Linked DNA regions of Homo sapiens: region 2 is linked to region 1. The links come from fine-mapping of genetic effects on gene expression. Tissue or cell type: sun-exposed skin. Region 1 holds a variant in brackets; the other region holds the start of a gene. All regions are shown on one strand. Distances are from middle to middle.

Region 1 (8,100 bases):
GCAGGCTACCTCTGTTATTTAGTAAGGGCCTTTTTCACTTCACCATTATGCCCATTAACAGTGTGGTATTTCTGGCTGGGCGTGGTGGCTCGCACCTGTAATCCCAGCACTTTGGGAGGCCTAGGCGGGTGGATCACGAGGTCAGGAGTTCGAGACCAGCCTGACCAACAAGGTGAAACCCTGTCTCTACTAAAAATGCAAAAATTAGCCAGGCTTGGTGGTGCACACCTGTAATCCCAGCTACTCAGGAGGCTGAGGCAGGAGAATCCCTTGAACCTGGGAAGCGGAGGGTGTAGTAAACCTAGATTTCACCACTGTACTCCAGCCTGGGCAACAGACGGAGACTCTGTCTCAAAAAAAAAAAAAAAAAAAAAAGCCAGTGTGGTATTTCTGAACAATTTTAAAAACTATATCTTGATCATCAAGTTACAAAAGCAAATCCTTTTTTCGACTCTGCTTGTCTTCCATAACTTCTATGGTTTTAATCTTGCCATACTTTTCAGAGGTCTCTCAAATTATATTCTTCTGTATCTTCTTTATTTTATTTATTTTATTTTTTTGAGACAGAGTCAAGCTCTGTTGCCCAGGCTGGAGTACAGTGGCGCAATCTCGGCTCACTGCAACCTCTGCCTCCTCGGTTCAAGTGATTCTTAGCTCCCTGAGTAGCTGGATTACAGGCGCCCACCACCACGCTCAGCTAATTTTTGTATTTTTAGTAGAGATGGGGTTTCACCATGTTAGCCAGGCTGGTCTTGAACTCCTGACCTCGTGATCTGCCCGCCTCGGCCTCCCAAAGTGCTGGGATTACAGGTGTGAGCCATCGCGCCCAGCATTGTTTTTATTTTTTCTTGAGGTGGAATCTCGCTCTGTCGCCCAGGCTGGAGTGCAGTGGCATAATAATTGCCTCTGCCTCCTGGGTTCATGTGATTCTCCTGCCTCAGCCTCCTGAGTAGCTGTGACTATCGGCTCACACCACCACACCTGGTTAATTAAAAAAAAATTTTTTTTTGGCCAGGCACGGTGGCTCACACCTGTAATCCCAGCACTTTGGGAGGCCGAGACAGGTGGATCACAAGGTCAGGAGATCGAGACCATCCTGGCTAACATGGTGAAACCCCGTTTCTACTAAAAATACAAAAAAAAATAGCCACGTGTGGTGACAGGCACCTGTAGTCCCAGCTATTTGGGAGGCTGAGACAGGAGAATGGCGTGAACCCAGGAGGCAGAGCTTGCAGTGAGCCGAGATGGCGCCACTGCACTCCAGCCTGGGTGAGAGAGCGAGACTCTGTCTCAAAAAAAAAAAAAAGAAAAAAATTTGTACAGACATGGGAAGGGGGTCTCTATGTTGACCAGGCTGGTCTTTAATTCTTAGCCTCAAGTGACCCTCCCACTTCAGTCTCTCCAATTTTTTTTTTGACACAGAGTCTTGCTATATTGCCCAGGCTGGAGTGCAGTGGCGTGATCTTGGCTCACTGCAACCTCCTGCTCCCAGGTTCAAGCAATCCTCCTGCCTCAGTCTCCCAAGTAGCTGGGATTACAGGCGTGTGCCACCATGCCTGGCTAATTTTTGTATTTTTAGTAGAGATGGGGTTTCACCATGTTGGCCAGGCTGGTCTTGAACTCCTTACCTCAGGTGATCCACCCACCTTAGCCTCCCAAAGTGCTAGGATTACAGGTGTGAGCCACCGCACCCAGCCTTTTTTTTTTTTTTTTTTTTTTTCCCCCAGAGTCTCACTCCATTGCCCAAGCTGGAGTGCAGTGGCGTGATCTCAGCTTACTGCAACCTCCACCTCACAGGTTCAAGCAATTCTCTTGCTTCAGCCTCCCAAGTAGCTGGAATTACTGGCACCAAGCCTGGCTAATTTTTTTGTATTTTTTGTAGAGATGGAGTTTCACCATGTTAGTCAGACGCATCTCAATCTCTCGACCTCAAATGATCTGCCCACCTCAACCTCCCAAAGTGTTGGGATTACAGGCGTGAGCCACCAAACCTGGCTTCTAGATACTTTTTTTTTTTTTTTTTTTTTTTTTTTTGAGATGGAGTTCACTCTTGTTCCCTAGGCTGTAGTGAAATGGTACAATCTCGGCTCACTGCAATCTCCGCTGCCTGGGTTCAAGCAATTCTCCTGCCTCAGCCTCTCAAGTAGCTGGGATTTATAGGCATGTGCCACCATACCTAGCTAATTTTATATTTTTAGTACAGATGGTCAGGCTGCCTTGTTGGTCAGGCTGGTCTTGAACTCCTGACCTCAGGTGATCCAACAGCCTCTGCCTCCCAAAGTGCTGGGATTACAGGCTTGAGCCACTGCGCCCAGCCTAGATACCTTTTCCTTATTAATTTCTAATTTAATTCCATTGTGGCCAGACAACATATTTTTAATGATTTCAATCCTTTTAAATTTGTTGGCCGGGCACAGTGGCTCACAGCTGTAAACCCAGCACTTTGAGAGGCCAAGGTGGGCAGATCACAAGGTCAGGAGTTCAAGACCAACCTGGCCAACATAGTGAAACCCCATCTCTACTAAAAAAACAAAAAAATAGCCGGGCATGGTGGCACGTGCCTGTAGTCCCAGCTACTTGGGAAGCTGAGGCAGGAGAATCACCTGAACCTGAAAGGCGGAGGTTGTGGTGAGTCAAGATCATGCCACTGCACTCCAGTCTTTTGAATTCTATTGTCTGATATTAATATCCCACTAACATTCTCCCATTAATAAGCCATTCTAGCTTACTTATGGTTGTCTGCATGATATATCTTTTTTCCATCTTTTTACTTTTAGCCTTTTTTTTTTTTTTTGAGACGGAGTCTCGCTCTGTCACCCAGGCTGGAGTGCAGTGGCACGATCTCGCCTCACTGCAACCTCTGCCTCCTGGGTTCACGCCATTCTCCTGCCTCAGCCTCCCGAGTAGCTGGGACTACAGGCGCCCGCCACCACGCCCGGCTAATTTTTTATATTTTTAGTAGAGCCAGGGTTTCACCGTGTTAGCCAGGATGATCTTGATCTCCTGACCTCGTGATCTGCCTGCCTCAGCCTCTCAAAGTGCTGGGATTACAGGCTTGAGCCACTGCGCCTGGACTAATTTTTTTGAGACGGAGTCTCACTCTGTCGCCCGGGCTGTAGTGCAGTGGCTGATCTCGGCTCACTGCAACCTCTGCCTCCTGGGTTCAAGCGAGTCTCCTGCCTCAGCCTCCTGAGTAGCTGGGATTACAGGCGCACGCCACCACGCCTGGCTAATTTTTTGTATTTTCAGTAGAGATGGGGTTTCACTGTGTTAGCCAGGCTGGTCTTGATCTCCTGACCTTGTGATCCGCCTGCCTTGGCCTCCCAAAGTGCTGGGATTATAGGCGTGAGCCACCGCGCCCGGCCCATTAACTTTTGTTTTAATTTTTTTTTTTTTTTTTTTTTTTTGAGACAGGGTCTCACTCTGTCATCCAGACTGGAGTGCAGTGGCACAATCTTGGCTCACCGCAACCTTCACCTCCCGGGCTCAAGCAATCCCCCTGCCTCAGCCTTCAGAGTAGCTGGGACTACAGGCATGAGCCACTCTGCCCAGCCTTGTTTATTTATTTTTTTAATTGAGATGGAGTCTCGCTCTGTTGCCCAGGCTGTAGTGCAGTGGTGTGATCTCGGCTCACTGCAACCTGTCTCCTGCGTTCAAGCAATTCTCCTGCCTCAACCTCCCAAGTAGCTGGGACTACAGGCGCACACCACCACACCTGGCTAATTTTTTTTTTTTTTGTATTTTTAGTAGAGGCAGGGTTTCGCCACATTGGTCAGGCTGTTCTTGAGCTCCTGACCTCAGGTGATCCGCCCACCTCGGCCTCCCAAAGTGCCGGGATTACAGGCGTGAGCCACTGCACCCGTCCCCGGCCTTGGGTTTTTTATTTATTTATTTATAGAGTCTTGCTCTGTTGCCAAGGCTGGACTGCAGTGGCACAATCTCGGCTCACTGCAACCTCTGCCTCCTGGGTTCAAGTGATTCTCCTGCCTTAGCCTTCCAAGTAGCTCGGACTACAGGTGTGCACCACCACACCCAGCTAACTTTGGTATTTTTAGTAGAGATGGGGTTTCACCACGTTGGCCAGGGTGGTCTCGAACTGGGATTACAGGCGTGAGCCACTGCCCCTAGCCTGTTTTAATATTTTAAATGTGCTTATATGGCCAGGCACGGGGTGGTTCACGCCTATAATTCCAAGTACTCAGGAGGCTGAGGCAAGAGGACTGTTTGAGCCCAGGAGCTGTGATCATGCCACTGCACGCCATCTGGGCAACAGAGCGAGAGCATGGCTCTAAAAATAAATTAAAATCTGGCTGGGCGCGGTGGCTCATGCCTGTAATCCCAGCACTTTGGGAGGCTGAGGCAGGCGGATCACGAGGTCAAGAGTTCGAGACCAGCCTGGCAAATATGGTGAAACCCT[G/A]TCTCTACCAAAAATACAAAAAATTAGCCGGGCGTGGTGGTGGCAGGCGCCTGTAGTCCCAGCTACTCGGGAGGCTGAGGCGGGGGAATCACTTCAACCCAGGAGGCGGAGGTTGCAGTGAGCCGAGATTGCACCACTGCACTCCAGCCTGGGCAACAGAGGGAGACTCTGTCTCCAAAAAAAAAAAAAAAGAAAATTAAAATAAAAAAAAAAAATGAAAAAATGAAACATGCAAAGCTGGTGAAACTGTCATTCATCAGTGTATGTAATGTATACATGTAGGTTGAGCAGCACTAATAAAACTGACATCCACGCGCCCACTTGCCAGCTGAAATTACCTAACAAGCCCTTTGTAGCCCCCTCTCATGCTTCACTGTGTTAATCATTCAGTTGCTTTTCTTCAGAGCTTTGCCGTGTGTGCCTGTGCAACATATAATGTCATGTTGGCTATCTTTGAACTTTAAATAGAATCAGGCTGAATGTATGCTCTGTAATGTTTTTCTGCTTAATTTCCAAGATTTCCTTATGCTTATATGTAGCAGTTATTAATTTTTACTGCTGTATAGCACTACACTCTATAATCCACAATTTATTCTACTCTTGAGCACAAACGGGCTGTTTGCCGTTTTTGACTTTTACAAACAATGCCGCTGTGCATATTGCTTGTGTGCTTCTGAGGTATTGTGCCTGGGAAGAACTGCTGGGTTGTAAGGTACGTGCATGTTCAGCTCATCTAGTTAATGCCAAACTGTTTCCAAGGTGGCTCGTACTAATTTCTCTTCCACCAGCAGGGTGGGAGGTCCTACTTCTCCACTTCCTTGCCAGCATCTTCTTGACAGTGTTTTTGCATCCTAACATATCTGCCACCTGAGTCTTTGTAAGAACAGCCAACGCTGAATGTTCACTCACACAGTGCCAGACCCTGTACTGAGGGCTCTGTGTGTGATTTGATTTCACCCTCACAAGACCCCCATCTATTATGAACATATTATTGATGACCAAGAGAGCAAGTCTTTGTCCTGCTTCTGCCCCAGACACTTCCCTTCTGCCGGGGCCCCATGGTCACGTTGCCTATCTTCGTTTCCCAGCCTAGGTGGGGCCGAGTCCCAGCAGGGCCTCAGTGCCACCCCTGGACCCCTTTCTCCTCAGGCTCTTACTCTCTGTCAGTCCGCCTCAGCCGCCCTGCATCCTGGGACCGGATCAGACACTACAGGATCCACTGCCTTGACAATGGCTGGCTGTACATCTCACCGCGCCTCACCTTCCCCTCACTCCAGGCCCTGGTGGACCATTACTCTGGTATGGCCTTTCCCTGCCTCCAGGACTAGGCTGGGATAGTCTGTGGGGAGGAGCAGGCAGTGGTGCCCTTGGATATTTTACCTACTGTGGAGTATTCAGACAGACAGAAGAGCGGCCTCCCCTATTTTCACGCCAGTCCCTATGCCAAGAAATGCAGGCTGGGAGCCCTGTCTTCACCTCGTGCCCTGGCAGAAAAGCCACAGACCTCCTGTGTAGGCTCAGGTCAGTACCTTGCCTACCACTCTGGTTCTGACTCAGAGCCCCTGGCAGCAGGCAGAGTTCTCTCCACAGGAACCGGGCACAGAGCTGCTGCTGTGTGGGATTCAATCCTGACTCTCCTTAGTACTTCCTGGTGCCTGTCCTTCAACAGACACTGGAAGATGCAGTCACTGGGCACAGCGTCAGGGGGCAGAGAGGGAAGAGCACTCTTGTGAAAACTCATTAGGGGTTTTCTGCAGGTCACTCTGTGTGGAAGTAGACAGTGAGTAGAAGTAGACTGAGCATTCCTTAGCTTTCTTCTTCCCAAAGCAATTTCCTAACCAGAAACTTGAGCTCAAGAGGTCCATGAACTCACCCTAAATCATACAGTGACTGTCTCCCAAAAGTTAGCCCAGAAAGACCTTTGACTACATCTGTCTCCATGAAACCAATAGCTTGGGGCTCATGTCCTATCACTCTTTGGTAACCATGCCCCCTCCTGCCAACTGCAGAGGGCTGTCAGGGTGAGGGCTGTTGGGGAGAAGTAGGGTGGAGTCAGTCATGTCAGGGATGGAGGTCTCTTCCTCAGAGCTGGCGGATGACATCTGCTGCCTACTCAAGGAGCCCTGTGTCCTGCAGAGGGCTGGCCCGCTCCCTGGCAAGGATATACCCCTACCTGTGACTGTGCAGAGGACACCACTCAACTGGAAAGAGCTGGACAGGTAAAGTTGGGGACTCCTGGAAACATGAAAGCAGGACCAAGAGTTAGAAGGACCCACCCCTGGGAAGCCACAACCCGGAATGTACCTGTCACACTCAGGGACACCTGGCAGCTGGAGCCAGAGTGCACTGACTCAACTCCTGGAGCACGGCCCAGGCTCGACAGGTGGGGCTGGGGAAGCTGATCTGATAGGGAACAGGGGAGCCCCATGAGGTCCTCAGCAGGAGTGAAGGGTTTTGAGAACAGTGCAATTTTGTGTGTAGTGAGTACAGGGAGGAGGAAGAGGCTTCTTGACCCAATTATCTTCCTTTGTCCACAGCTCCCTCCTGTTTTCTGAAGCTGCCACAGGGGAGGAGTCTCTTCTCAGTGAGGGTCTCCGGGAGTCCCTCAGCTTCTACATCAGCCTGAATGACGAGGCTGTCTCTTTGGATGATGCCTAGGCCCAAAGGAGAGGCCAAAAGGGAAACCAAGGCTGCACACCTAGAACCCCAATTCAGCCTCCTGGGCACCCCAGAGGCAAGGCTGTGCACTCAGGGAGGGAGGGTGGGACACAGAGGTGCATCTAGGGTCCCACCTGTACCCTTGCTCTTTCCTCTCTTAGCCCTTAGAAGTCACCTACTTCCTTCCAGTGCCATGATCCCACCTGCGACCTCTAGTGCGAGTGCAGAGAAGGTGGGACCAGGGCCAGGGTTCCAAAAAGAGAATAAGCCTCCTGGGGGGTCTGACCTAGTTAGTTCTTGAGTTTGGGGTTTCCAGTACCATCTGGATGCCCTGCCTGTTGAGCCCCATTCTACATCCCCACCATTAACCAGGCCCCACCCACAAGGTAGAAACAACCCCTAGAGTCAACGAGAAAGTCATTTTCAGAAAATCTACAAGTCTCGTTGAGACCACCACCATACCTCAGAAGGTAGGACTGTGGCCTAGAAGGGAAAGGAAAGCTGAGATGATGTCTTACCGTAGCAGCAGATCTTGGATGGTCCAGGCTCTATGTGACCTCCAGAGCAAAGAGAAAGACTTCGGACAGTCTAGGTCCTCAAATGTCCCCCATTGAGGACAACAGCCCCAGCTCTTTTTCTTTTTTTTGAGACGGAGTCTTGCCCTGTTGCCCATGCTGGAGTGCAATGGCACGATCTCAGCTCACTGCAACCTCCATCTCCTGGATTCAAACAATTCTCCTGCCTCAGCCTCCAGAATAGCTGGGATTACAGGCGTACACCACCATGCCTGGCTAATTTTTTTGTATTTTTAGTAGACATGGGGTTTCACCACATTGGCCAGGCTGGTGTCGAACTCCTGACCTCAGGTGATCCACCCACCTTGGCCTCCCAAAGTGCTGGGATTACAGGTGTGAGCCACGGCACCCAGCCTAGCTCTCAGATCTCTATTTCATTTTGTGGCTTACCATTCCCTAGCACACTGGCCTTGCCATCTTGTGGCCGAATAAAAAATAACACCTCTTAAG
Region 2 (8,099 bases), 75 kb after region 1:
TGTCTGGTCTGGATGCTGTCACTCGGCATGAGGGGTACGCGGGAACTGGGCTGAGAGTGGCTGGCTGTGGCCAGCACTTTGGGAGGGATGTTGGGGCAGGCCCGTGGGTTGGGGCATGGTCTGTGGAGGCCTTGCCTCTGGGCCTGTGTTTCCCCATCTGCAGTAGAGAATTGGACTTGATTTTTGTACCCTGTTAGTTCTAAGGTCCTGATCCTGAGGAAGTCACTGGGACCAGAGAGGCTATGAGAGCCTGAGATGGGTGACCTCTGAAGGAGGGGAGCTGGTCTGGCCGCCCCTCTAGGCCTCAGTTTCCCCATCTGTGCAGTGGGCAGCCTGCAGTTCACACTTTCATTTAGATGCTGACCTCTTTCTTTCCTTTCTTTCTGTTTTGAGACGGAGTCTTGCTCTGTCGCCCAGGCTGGAGTGCAGTGGCGTGATCTTGGCTCACTGCAAACTCCGCCTCCCAGGTTCACACCATTCTCCTGCCTCAGCCTCCCGAGTAGCTGGCGCCCGCCACCACGCCCAGCTAATTTTTGTATTTTTAGTAGAGACGGGGTTTCACCATGTTAGCCAGGATGATCTCGATCTTCTGACCTCGTGATCCGCCCGCCTTGGCCTCCCAAAATGCTGGGATTACAGGCGTGAGCCACAGCGCCTGGCCAGCTGACCCCTTTCTTTAAATGAAATGATACCTGGCAGCCCAGTGCACAAATCTGCCTAAGACAGGCCCACTGTGGAGTCAGCCTGTCTACGTTCAGACCCTGTGGTGGACCTGCTTTGTGCTTCAGTTTCCCTGTTTTTTTTTTTTTTTTTGAGATGGAGTCTCGCTCTGTTGCCCAGGCTGGAGTGCAGTGGGGCGATCTCGGCTCACTGCAACCTCCGCTTTCCGGGTTCACGCCATTCTCCTGCCTCAGCCTCCCAAGTAGCTGGGACTACAGGCGCCCGCCACCACGCTCGGCTAATTTTTGGTATTTTTAGTAGAGTCAGGGTTTCACCGTGTTAGCCAGGATGGTCTCGATCTCCTGACCTATTGATCCGCCCGCCTTGGCCTCCCAAAGTGCTGGGATTACAGGCGTGAGCCACCGCGCCCGGCCCAGTTTCCCTGTTGAATGGACTAAGTTAATGGCAACTATTCTCTAAGGTGGACACCACGCGTCTCACTACACAGGAGGTGCCCTGTAAATGATTGGCAGAGCCTGCCTGGCCTCATCCATCTCACCCCTGTCCCTGTCCCAGCTCACCCAGCGAGGCCAGCATGTCGTGCAGGTCCTCCTTGTCAATGAAGCCATCACGGTTCTGGTCAATCATGTTGAAAGCCTCCTTAAACTCCTGGATCTGGGACTGGTCAAACATTGCGAAGACATTGGATGTGGCCCGCTGTGGCCGCTTCTTGGTGGTCTTGGCTTTGGCCCGCTTGCTGGACATCTTGGCTTCTGGTGGGTGGGGCTTCCCTGCAGGAAGGGGTGGGGGTTGGGTGGCCCTGTGACTCTGGGCCAGGGAATCTTCCTGCCTCCCCCAGACTGGCTTTTAGCACTTCGGCCTGGCATTCAAGGCTGCCCACGGATTTGGGGCTCCCACCACCCAGTTCTTCACAAAAGCAGACAAGTGTGGCTGTGTGATTCTGAACAACTTCCTCTACCTCTCTGAGCCCGAGAGTCTTCATCTGGGACTGGAGACATGAGGAGTGCCCAGCAGTAGGGATTAACTGACTCAGTGCCCGAGAGCTCCTGGAACAGTGCCGGGCATGGAATCAGCTATTTTGGCTGTGACTGTTTGGGTAAAACACTTAGGATTGGGCTTGGTGCCAACCATTACCATGCTTTATCTCCTTTAATCCTTAATAGCATTTACACTGTCCCTCTCTCTTTCCAAGTGACAAGGTGGGTCCACTCGTGGGAGTCAGTGAGGGCTCTCCTGGGCTGCCATCCAGGCTCCCTGGCCCTGCAGGAAGGAGCTGGATCAGCATTCCTGCATTCCTGCCGTTCCTCACTCTCCCACTCCATCCCTCTGCTGCCCGCCTGAGGTTCTAGGAGGCTCTGGGCAGTCAAACCCCCGCCTGTCCACCTCAGGGAGCTTGACCAGCCCCCCAGTGGTGAGTGGTCACAGACTGATCCTGGGTCCCACTCCTTGTTCTCACTCCCCACTGCTTATCGGGGTGTGAGGCTTGCTTGGGCTGAGAACCCCAGCTTCTTCACCCTTGCTTAGACCTGGCTTCTTAGCCTCCAGCCGGCCTCTTCTGTCCCATACAGACCCTGACCTACACCTATCATTGTGAAGCCCTTGAAGGTTCCTGCCGCCCCTCAGAGCAAGTCTGGGTCCCTCATCCTGGCATTCAAGGCCCTGTGTGAGTCCCTCCTGGCCTCTCTGACAGCCCTCGTGGTGTCCCTCTTGTGACCCACAATCCTACCCTTCTGACCTCTGCAGTTCCCTGGACACTCCCAGGCTTTCCTCTGTGGTCCCCTCCTCCCCTGTGCTCTTTCTTCTCCAGCCCAGTTCTTGAGACCGCCCCCCTCTCCTAGGGAGCTGTTCCCTGTACCCTTGCTTCCACAGTAAACACTTAAAGATCTCTCTCCCTTGTGGGCCAGCATAGATCCCCCAGTTTACACCAATCCCAGGCCATAGTTGGGCTAACAGATGCTTGTTTGATGAATGACTATATGAAGGCAACTACGGCCAGTCTGCTGCTTCTACTGTACAGATGGGGAAACTGAGACCAGGCCTGGGACTGTTTCCCTGAATGCTTGCCACAGCTTGTGGGGATATGCGCCTGAAGACCCAGTGCCTCCTTCCCTCGGCTGGGGCAGTGGGCCTGGCTGAGGTTCCAGGACTGCGGCCCCTCTTCCCTCTGCCCAAACCCCCGGGCCCAGGGCCTCCAGGAAGCCTCCTCTGCCTGTTGTTCACCCCAAGCTGTGTGGTTGCAACTTGAGCTGTTTCCAGGCCTTCCTCCCATGACTCTGTTGAAGTCATTCTCGGTCCTTGGCCTTTGAGATCATCAACCCTGGACTGGGATCCCGGCCAGCCCCAGCTGGTCCCCAGGGCCATCACTGCCTGTAGTCATGAGACAGTGGTTGCCCGTGTCCCACGGACCGACACACCCAGCCCTCAGTGTTTCTTGCATGGTTCAGGAAGGTAGACAGAATTCCTTCTCACCCATGACCTAGTTGGGAGTGCCATTGTCCCCAGATGCCGGCCCCCTCCTCTCCCGTGCTTTAGAGGGGCCTAGTCCTTCCCTGAGTCCAGTGTTCTCGGGAACTTTGACTCCTGGTGCCCACAGAAGGCTGCATGCAGAGAGGCAGTGCACTGTGCCCAACAGAGGCTGTGATGGCCATCACTGTCCCCACCACACTCTATGAAGCTCTAGGGCAGGCATGGCCAGGCCACCCACAGCTGGGTCTGAGCCCAGCTGGGCCCCTCTGCCTTCATGGCCACCCGGTCTGCACTCTCTGCTGTGGTGTGGCTGGGAGCACTGTACTTAAGGGCTTGCACAAGGCCGCCATGTCCACCCCAGCAATTGTGGGAAGTGGTGAGCGGAGGCAGGGGTGCCCCCATGGTGCAGCTAGGAAAAGAGGCCCCAGAAGGGGAGTGGAGTGCCCATGAGAGGGGGAGGGGCCACCTGGAAGACAGGATTCCTGGGCTAGGTTTGGGTCAGTGGAGAGCAAACTTGGCTGCTGGTGCCCTCGAGGCTTGAACAAAACAGGGAGCCCCAGTCCTCAGGCGGGCCTGTGGCAGTGGAGTGGGAAAGGGCTCTGTGTATCCAGAGGCGCCTTCTAGAACTGGTGGAGGGGCGAGGGGCAGGCATGGGTGGGGCCTTTAGTTCTGAGGCCATCGCTTCCCCCTTCAGGTGCCCTAGACACCAGGGGTCAGCACTGATACTTGGCCTGGATGTGACTGGATGCCATGTCCCCCATCCTGGTGTCCAGATTCCCACCATAACAGAAAAGGCTGGGCTGAAGCCAGCACAGGGCAGTGCCCCCATGACCTCCAGCCCCTGGAGCTGGGCAGGCCAGATGCCTCCTTCTCAGTGCACCTCATCTGAGTCTCCTCCTTAGAGCAGCTGGAGGGCTGGGAAGAGCAGGGATCAGGTTCTCCCAGCCACTAGTCCTCGTCCTGCCCCCTAGGGGTGAGTCCATCAGGGCCCTCCGCAGACCTTCCCCACCCACAGGCGAGATGACCCAGAGAGGGGAAGGCCCGGGTCCCTGCATACAGCACTGGCTGTGTCGGAAGGGCCCCCTGGTCTCGGTCCCTTTCCCCTGGCCCAGGGTGTAGGGATGGGAGATGGGGAGGGGACACAGATGCTGTGGGGGCGTGGAGTCCCACAGGGCTGTTTCTCCATCTGTGACACACATGCCTTTACTGGGCCAGGGGGAACTGACGACTGCAACCCTCTCCCCAGCACCCTTGTACCCGGGCTCCCCAGCCCCCCCCGGAGCTCTGGGCTTGGCATCTCCAGCTCCTCAGCAAAGGGGCAGGGCCTGGACGATGGCCTTCCCTTGCCGCAGGACCACTGCTTCTCAGAGGCCAGAACAGCCTTCCTGCTGCCCGGCCCCTGGCCAGAGTCCCTGTCGGCCCCCAGCAAACTCGCTGCCCCAGCTCACCCCTCAGTCCGTGCCCAACAGACCCTACCACGTCCCAGTCCGTGGGGCCCGCCTTTGCCCCCCGTGACAGCCGGGTCGGGCCCGGGCCACCTCTCATCTCCAGCCCTGGGCCGTTAGGCCTGTCCTCAAGACCCCCGGGGCCCCGGATCCCACCTGGTGCGGAGAAGGCGCTTGGGCTCGCTGGGTGCGTGGAACTGGGCCGGCCGTCGGGTCTGGACTCCAGGCGGGGGCGGGGCGTGGCGGCCGGGCCTTACAAGGCAGAAGAATGTGCGCGGGGCGGGGCCGCGGGCGGGGTGCGGGGGCCCTCGGCTGCCGTCCGGCCTTATTTGGCCTCGACCCACGGGCTGGCAGGCGGGGGCGCTCTGGGGTGAGCCCCCCTTCCTTGCTGTGCCAGCCCGGGCTGCACAGAGGGCCTTGTAGGGAGGGGAGGTGATGGGGTGAGCAGGCAATGGGAGAGGGGGTGTGGGGGTTCGCTCTGGGCCACCCCTTCCCCTCCAGAGAGGCAAACGGAATGTCCAGGGCCGCTTCCCCAGAGGCCTCCCACTTGTATGGGCCGTGGGAGTGCAGCTTCCCCTGACGGGCAACGGCTCTCGACGTGGGGAGGGCAGAGGCGGTGGGTGGGGGGGCTCCCAGGGACCCCTACGCCCGGTGACTCGCTCTGTCCACATCAGCGGTCGCCCGCCAGAGCGGGGTTGAAGGAACCACTCGGGAAGCACTGGTTTCGTGGAGGGAAACACGATGAACAAGTAGCTCCGCGGCCTGGGGCCTCAAAGGAGAAGGGGACCTGGGGGGAGCGTGGGCTGTTCCGCAGGGTGCTCTGGGCAGTGACATTGGGCAGACAGGAGGTGCAGGGGTGCGCCCCGCCGTGAGGGCTCCCGGGCTTGGGGTCGCCGGCAGCAGGAGGTCAGGAGGATGGGGGCGGGAGCCGGAGGGGCTGAGAAGCAGCAGGGACCCCTCTGTGGCTCCCTGTAGGCCATGTGGGGTGTCGGAGGGTTCCGAGCAGGGGGTGACGACCTGGCTTGGGTTTTGACGGAATCCTTCTGGGTGATGTGTTGAAAATAGCGCAGAGGGGGCCGAGTCCACGAGCAGGGGACCTGTGAGGAGCGACCCAGCAAGGATCAGGCTGATCCGGACTAGCGGGGAGGCCGAGGGACAAGTGCTAAAACTATTTCCGAGGTGCAGCCGGTAGGATCTGCTGGGGCATGGGAATGGGTGTGAAAGAAAAGAGTTAGGGTGGACTCTCAGAGTTTTGATGTGAGCAACGAGAAAGAGCTGCCATTTTCTATGATGGGTTTGCTGTGTGGAGCAGTTTGGGGATAAGAAACTCTATTTTGGACAGATTAATTTTTAAAAACTTTATTTTGAAATGATTTCAGACTTAGGATAAAGTTAGAAGAACTGTGCAAAGAACCCTGTATAGCTTCATCTAGATTCTCCATTTGTTACCATTGGGTTTTATTATATTTTCTTCTTGCTTTCCATATACATATACATATATATAATACATGTACATACATTTATATTTATTTATTCCTACCCCCAACCATTTGAGAGTTTCTTGCATACGTATGTCCTGTTATCTCTACATGTTTCAGTGAGTACCTCCTAAAAAGGAGATTCTCTTAAATATGCATAGTACAATGATAAAAGTCAGGACAATTTTCACATTGATTTAATTACCTAATTTACAGTCCATATTCAGGTTGTGCCAGTTATCCCAATAATGTCCTTTAGAGGAATTTTTTCTGGTCTAGGAGCCAAAGTAAGATCATTTGTCATCACATTTCTTCAGTGTCCCAGTTTTACATTTTATTTTTTGATTGTGGTAAAATATACATAACATAAAATTACCATTTTCAGCGTGTTTTTTTTTTTTTTTTTTTTTTTGAGATGGAGTCTCCCTCTGTCGCCCAGGCTGGAGTGCAGTGGCGCCATCTCAGCTGACTGCAAGCTCCGCCTCCCAGGTTCATGCCATTTTCAGCATTTTTAAGTGTATAGTTTGGTGGCATTAAGTATATTCACTTTGTTTTGCAACCATCACCACCATCCATCTCCAGAGCACTTTCATCTTCCTCAGCCGAAACTCCCTGCCAGTTAAACACTAACTCCACCTTGCCCCCTTCTCCCCGCCCCTGGCAGTCATCATTCATCTTTCTGTTTTCTGTGAGTTTATCTACTTATTGGGGCCTCATGTAAGTGGAATCATATAGCATTCGACCTTTTGTCACTGGCTTATTTCACCCAGCATAATGTCCTCAAGCCCCAGGTTCATCCATGTTTAGTGTATATCAGAATTTCTTTTTGGGGGTGGGGGGTTGAGATAGGGTCTCACTCTGTCGCCGTGGGTGGCATGCAGTGGCACAATTATAGCTCACTGCAGCCTTGACCTCCTGGGCTCAAGCAATCCCCCTGCTTTGACCCCCTCAAGTAGCTAGGGCTGCAAGCATGCACCAGCACACCCGGCTAAGTTTTCTTTTTTTTTTTTGAAACGGAGTCTCGCTCTGTCACCCAGGCTGGAGTCCAGTGGCGCGATCTCGGCTCACTGCAAGCTCTGCCTCCCGGGTTCATGCCATTCTCCTGCCTCAGCCTTCCGAGTAGCTGGGACTACAGGCGCCCGCCACCATGCCCGGCTAATTTTTTTTTTTTGTATGTTTAGTAGAGACGGGGTTTCACCGTGTTAGTCAGGATGGTCTCGATCTCCTGACCTCATTATCTGCCCGCCTCAGCCTCCCAAAGTGCTGGGATTACAGATGTGAGCCACTGCGCCCGGCCCACACCTGGCTAAGTTTTCTACTTTTGTAGAAACAGGGTCTCCCTGTGTTGCCCAGCCTGGTCTCAAACTTCTAGCCTCAAGCAGTCGTCCTGCCTGGACCTCCCAAAGTGCTGGGATTATAGGCCTGAGCCACTGTGCTTGGCCCCGGCTAATTTTTTAAAAAATTCTTTTTGTAGAAGTGGGATTTTGCCATGTTGCCCAGGCTCTCGTCCTTTTTAAGGCTGAATAATATTCCATTGTTTGCATAGTTTGTTTATCTACTCATCATGGATGGACACTTGGGTTGCTTCCACTTTTTGGCTATTCTGAATAATGCTTCAGTGAACATGGGTCTCTTCAAGTTCCTGCTATTGTTTTTTTAACCTGACATTGTGAACATATAAGTCTCTGTTTTCAATTCTTTTGGGTATGTGCCCAGAAATGGAATTGCTGGATCAAATGGTTATTCTATTTTTAACATTCCGAGGAACTGCAATAACTGTTTTCTGTAGTGGCTGTACCATTTTAAATTCCCATCAACAGTGTACAAGGGGCCTGGTGTGGTTGCTCTTGCCTGTAATCCTAGCACTTTGGGAGGCCTAGACAGGTGGATCACTTGATGCCAGGAATTTGAGACAAGCCTGGCCAGCATGGTGAAATCTTGTTCTCTACGAAAAATACAAAAATTAGCCAGGTGTGGTTGTACACGCCTGTAATCCCAACTACTCGGGAGGCTGAGGCAGGAGACTCAC

Alleles and levels. Alleles are on the strand shown, and positions count from the first base shown. SD is a standard deviation of normalised expression in the study named.
With allele A in place of G in region 1, the expression in sun-exposed skin of the gene that starts at base 4,791 in region 2 is lower (small effect, 0.19 SD a copy in GTEx).

Evidence for each region. PIP is the estimated chance that this variant, and not a neighbour inherited with it, causes the effect.
Region 2: it holds the start of MYL9, and the variant in region 1 is fine-mapped to the expression of MYL9 in sun-exposed skin (GTEx, PIP 0.92).

What each region holds. Positions count from the first base shown.
Region 1 is chr20:36,612,841-36,620,940 of GRCh38, reverse strand. SLA2 (Src like adaptor 2) reads left to right here. Exons shown (of 8, transcript NM_032214.4): 6 at 5,567-5,716; 7 at 6,504-6,636; 8 at 6,955-8,100. The coding sequence ends at 7,075. It also overlaps the pseudogene HNRNPA3P2. Among named protein-coding and RNA genes, the nearest start is that of RAB5IF, 11 kb to the right of the region's middle. The variant G/A (reference allele first, on the strand shown) is at 4,418.
Region 2 is chr20:36,538,211-36,546,309 of GRCh38, reverse strand. MYL9 (myosin light chain 9) reads right to left here and starts at 4,791. Exons shown (of 4, transcript NM_006097.5): 1 at 4,749-4,791; 2 at 1,242-1,451. The coding sequence starts at 1,425. All of the region lies in intron 2 of DLGAP4-AS1 (DLGAP4 antisense RNA 1), which reads left to right. RefSeq lists enhancers at 1,375-2,028, 2,029-2,682, 2,683-3,336, 3,337-3,990 and a silencer at 4,771-4,970.